Regions from separate parts of the Homo sapiens genome. Here region 2 is linked to region 1. The links come from fine-mapping of genetic effects on gene expression. A gene starts in region 1. The other region holds a variant in brackets. All regions are shown on one strand. Distances are between the middles of the regions.

Region 1 (2,817 bases):
CGGGCAGGAGCCAAAACCACCATTGCAGATATGCTCCCAGTTTTACCAGCTAATTAGATGTTAAACTTACATTGTAACAATCAACCTGATATTATTGCCTACTGCAGATAGAACTAGAATTCTAATTAGGTCAGAATTCTAGCTGGGATTGTGTAGATGGACAAATTCTTTCAGGGTAGTTTGATATCACTGCTATAATTTATGGTAAAGACAGTTGGGATCATACTGGCAAACTAAGTACCTGCCTACACTCCCTCAGGCCTAAAAATGCCATTGATTATCCCAAAAAAACTGAGAAAATAATCCACTACAGTACGGAAAAAGACAAAATAGGGGCACTAACACACAAGAAGCACTGAAGGCTTTCTGAAAGAGTAATCAGGCCTGATGTTTGTAGTTTTAATGTTTACTTTGCAAACAAAGGTAGAAACAGAGTCTGGAGCTCGGATGCCACCACCAGAGAGGGTGGCTGTTCAGCCTCTCTCCTGTGCAAATTAACCTAATTCTGAACCTGTCTTGGTTTAATTCGCACAATTTCAGGTGCCATGCTAGGTACACCACAAATATACCTCAGGGACCTCAATTGCAAAAACCTGGACTGCAAACGTTGGGGCTGCAGAGTTGACTAGGTTAATAAATTCTTTCTGAGGTAAAGCAGATAACACCCACTAATAAAAAGAATGAAACTTCATCGTCCCATTGGCATCCTCGGGTGTGCAGGTGTTCCTCAGAGCAAAGCCCATGGTGTGCCCCATCGCCAATTCGTGACAAGGCAGGGGGCGGGGGGCGGGGGAAGGAAAAAAGCCTGGGATAAGAAATCAGAGAATACAAGTCGCTTTTAAACAAAAAACAGTGACTGTTAGAGTACACCCACCATTGGGGTAACACGCAATAATCTCTCAGCATCACTGACTCCAGCACAGCTGGTCCCCTGGAAAAGGCACGTTGCCGGAAGGTTTTGTGTGTGACCAAGCAATTGGCCATCCCACGCCTTCGCCCTACCAGATGGGTCCCTGCCCCCGGGAGTCCCCTCCCCCTCCACCCTCCAAACCCAGGCAGCGCCCGCCCCTGCCCCCGCTGATTGACAGGCCGTGCAGCTACTCCTGGGAGCCTGGCTTTCGGGGGCAACCCAGGCAGAAGTGACTATCTCTGCAGCAGCCAATAGAAGCCAGGAGGCGGGGCGGGGAAGCGGCGCGGTCAGGTGCTCCGCTCCAGAGTTGAGCGCAGGTGAGCTCCTGCGCGTTCCGGGGGCGTTCCTCCAGTCACCCTCCCGCCGTTACCCGCGGCGCGCCCGAGGGAGTCTCCTCCAGACCCTCCCTCCCGTTGCTCCAAACTAATACGGACTGAACGGATCGCTGCGAGGGTGAGTCCAGGGGCGTGGGTGGCTTCCCTCCCGGGAACCCACACTGCTCCTCTGGGTCCCTAAAGCAACGTCCCCTCCTTGCCACTGCACATCTAAGAAGCCCAGGCCTCGGTGGGCGGGATGACTGGGAATTGGGAACATAACCTACGCCGCGACCATTCTGGGTGGCTAGGATGGAATCCTGGTGGAGAAGATGGACACCCCCGCCCTTGACGTCTACCCGAGCTACACAAACCTACTCCTTCTGCACTTTCCCTCTTCCGTTTAATCGGTGCCCCGTCCTTCCTGCTCTCCAAGTCTGTTTGTGGAGGAAGGGTTGGAGGGGAGAAAGAACTGGAAAGTACTCAATGAAATGTGGAGCCAGATCCAGGGATTCCACTGTTTTGTGCAGCATTTTGTGCACGAAAAAAAAAAAAATTCTGATTGTTTTCATTCCCCACCCCCCACCTCTGTTTATTGCTCTGTGTCATGGATGTGATGTTGAGTCTTCTTGCCAAACATTCCTAAGCTTTAGACAACACTTAATCTTTGCTTACTTTTGTTGGTCCCAAGAAAGCAGTTTTCTCCTGCTTACACATGTGCCGAATTAATTTGCTAAGATAGATGAAAATGAGGTGTTCCATGTAGTTTATTTCCTCTGCTTTTAGCCTTAAATTACATTTGGTTGATACTAGCCTTCCTTGTTTTAAAAAGGTGGGAGAGAAAATTAGGGGGAGAAAGGACAGAGAGAGCAACTACCATCCATAGCCAGATAGGTGAGTAAATATATTTGCAGTAACCTATTTGCTATTCCTTGCTGCAACTGTGTTTAATGTTCCTTCCAGAATCAGAGAGAGTATTGCCATCCAAGAAATCGTTTTTAAATATGACATTTGAGCTATCATCTTGAGACCAATACCTAAAACAATTTCAGTTTAAGAAATGTCTAGGTATGGTGAAAACACAGTTTAAAACCAGCAAAACAGAATTTATTGCCCTCAGCGAATACCCACAATGTACATATACCTTGTATTTCTGAAAGCAAAGCAAGCATGCCAAGTAGTTTTTATTTACCTGTACCTATAATACAGCAAGGTGAAACAGGATATATTTTTGAAGTTTAAAAATGTCTTCAGGCCGGCTGCGGTGGCTCATGCCTGTAATCCCAGCACTTTGGGGAGCCGAGAAGGGTGAATCACCTGAGGTCAGCAGTTTTGAGACCAGGCTGGCCAACATGGCGAAACCCTGTCTCTACTGAAAATACAAAAATTAGCTGGGTGTGGTGGCGGGCGCCTGTAGTCCCAGCTACTTGGGAGACTGAGGCAGGAGAATTGCTTGAACACGGAAGGCGGAAGTTGCAGTAAGCTGAGATCGTGCCACCGCACACCAGCTTGGGCAACAGAGTGAGACTCCCTCTCAAAAAAAAAAAAAAAAGAAGTCTTCAGCTTAGGAAGATATCAAAAGGCAGTTTCAAG
Region 2 (2,817 bases), 36 kb after region 1:
TAATAGCTAAAACTGTAAAACTCTTAAAAGAAAATGTAGGAGTAAATGTGGGAGTACATTTTTGTAACCCTGGGTTCAACAGAGCCTTCTTAGATACCACACCAAGAGCACAAGTGACCAAAAAAGAGAAATAAACTGGACTTCAAAATTAAAAAGTCTCGTGCCTCAAAGGATACCATCAAGAAAGTGAAAAGACAACCCAGAGAATGGAAGAAAATATTTGCAAATCATATATCTGAAGAGATTTGTATCTAGACTATATAAAGAATTGCTACAACTCAATAATAAAAGTCAGATAATCCAGTCAAAAAATGAGCATGAGCTGAAAAAGATATTTCTCCAAAGAAGACACAAATGACAAATTAGCACATGAAAAGATGCTCAACAGCATTAGTCATCAGAGAAATGCAATCAAACCCACAATAAGGTACCATTTCACACCCCGAAGGATGAGTAAATAAAATAGATAACAACAAGTGTTGATAGAGAAATTGAAACCTTTATAAACTGCTACTGGAAATGTGAAATGGTACAGCCACTTTGGAAAATATTCTGGCAGTCTTCAAAGGGTTAAACATAGGGCTACCATATAACCCAGCAATTCTACTATTAGGTATGTGCTCAAGAGAAATGAAAACATATGTCCACACAAAAACTTGTACACAAATGTTCACAGCAGCATTATTTGTAAGAATCAAGTGGAAACATCTCAATGTGCACTAACTTATGAATGGATAAATAAAATGTAATATATCCATATAATGAAATATTATTTGACACAAAAAGGAAGGAAGTGCTAACACATTTTATAACCTGGATAAATACGCTAAATGTAAGAACGCAGTCACAAAAAATCACTTATTATATGATTCCATTTAGATAAAATGTCTAGAACAGGCAAATCTATAGAGACTAAAAGTAACTATAGTAACTATCTAGGGCCAGGGGTTGGGGGGGAAATGGGTAATAAATGCCAGTAAGTATAAAGTTTATTTTTGGGGTTATGAAAATGTTTTCAAATTGATTGTGATGACAGTTGCACAGCTCCATAAAGCAGTACTCTTAAAATGAGTGAATTGAATGGTGTGTGATTTATATCTCAATAAAATATTATTTTTTAAAAAAGAGCAGAGGGAAGTGAAATTGTAATCTGAAATGTCCTGCCACAAAACAGGAAACATTTTTGATCTCATTTTACCTCAAAAAAGTGAATTTTATACTCCAAAATACACACTTGAGTGTTTTAATGTGAAAGTTTTATACCACTTCCCATGTGCAAAACAGACCAAAAACCTGTGTCCGTCCTCTCCCACAAAACACAAATCAAAATGCTTCTTCCTCAAATCTTGAGTTAAAAGGATGCTCCAGGAACACATGCTGTTAATCCTGTGGCTCAGTAATCCCTCAGCACACTGCTGGGATCCAAGCGTCCCAGTCCTTGTTCTCAGGATAAGTAGTACAGACAAAGTGGAAAGACTATAGACTGAAGTCAGAAGGGTCCCAGAACCTGAACTCACAATTAGTAGATGGGTGATCTTGGGTAGATCCAACTTTTCTTGGCTTCTGTTTCCTTGTGTGTAAAATGAGGATGTGTAAAGGTTACAGAATAGGCCCTCAAAATTAGTTTCCCTTTATCATTCTAGTTACAAAGATGTTGGGAAAAAAAACAAGACTGTACTATGATAGGCAGAATATTATTGTGAAACTATAAAA[T/C]ACATTAGGAATAATTTAGTCTCATCTCTTCGCATATGATGACCTTGCATATGACTTTGCTTATGATGAAGCTAAAGTCCAGTGATTAGCCGGGCTCAGAAAGCAATCAGTTGCTTCACTGTGTTCTTACTAATTTCATGTCCTCAATAAGTTTACAAGTCCAGTAATAGCAAGTTAACAAGTCTGATAATAATCTCCAAACTATTAACAGAACTCTTCCTGATAGAACACCTTTTATTAGCAGTGCCGGATCCATGTCTGCCACATTCTGTCTCATTCTAATAGGGAGTGTTAAGCTACAGACAAACCAACAATGAGAAGTTCTCAAGCAGTTTCCAAGGAATGAAAATAAAGTTTGCAGGGAATGAAACTGTTACAGTATAAAACATTGAGAGAAATTCTGTAATTTTTCACACCAAAAAGATGTCAAAGAGAAGAAAAAAAGCAGACCTCTCTGGACTGCAACCAAATATCCCTACAACAAATGGAAGTATGAGTTAGTCTTCAATTCAGGGGACAAACTACCTTCTAATTTCTCTGGGAAGACGTTCTTCCCTGGATGGAATGCAGTCAACTCTCACTGGCATTCCTAGCCCATGTGAAGCCAAGAGAGTATAAACCATTACAGGATATGGTGAAAGATATTTGTCACTATTAGCACGCCATCTGCTCTGTAATACAATGAAACTCTCATACACCTTTAAAAACTTTATTCTATGACTATAAATAAGGCAGTTATCTTTAGATTATTATCAGTTGCTTTCTTATAGTCTAAGGAAAAAAATATACTCCTTAAAAATTCCTTAGTCTTAAAAATCGTAGGATTCTAAATTATTCTCCAATTTTGTAAAATACACAGAAATTTCTAGCATACACAAAGTTTTCTAGCAGCTTCAAAACACTTACACTTATCTTACTTTCTACATAGTAAAATACCTCCCTCCATTACTCCTTGTCCTTTCATCAAAATTTCTTCCAAATTAAGTCAAATTGTCCCTGTTTGCAGACGACATGATTGTATATCTAGAAAACCCCATTGTCTCAGCCCAGAATCTCCTTAAGCTGATAAGCAACTTCAGCAAAGTCTCAGGATACAAAATCAAT

The links. PIP is the estimated chance that this variant, and not a neighbour inherited with it, causes the effect.
Region 2: its variant is the best candidate, but not a certain one, in a credible set for the expression of ENPP5 in whole blood (TOPMed, PIP 0.51).

What each region holds. Positions count from the first base shown.
Region 1 is chr6:46,169,354-46,172,170 of GRCh38, reverse strand. It overlaps ENPP5 (ectonucleotide pyrophosphatase/phosphodiesterase family member 5), which reads left to right and starts at 1,191. Exons shown (of 5, transcript NM_001290072.2): 1 at 1,191-1,363; 2 at 2,057-2,118. RefSeq lists a silencer at 960-1,019.
Region 2 is chr6:46,132,992-46,135,808 of GRCh38, reverse strand. All of the region lies in intron 1 of ENPP4 (ectonucleotide pyrophosphatase/phosphodiesterase 4), which reads right to left. Among named protein-coding and RNA genes, the nearest start is that of ENPP4, 4.4 kb to the right of the region's middle. The variant T/C (reference allele first, on the strand shown) is at 1,714.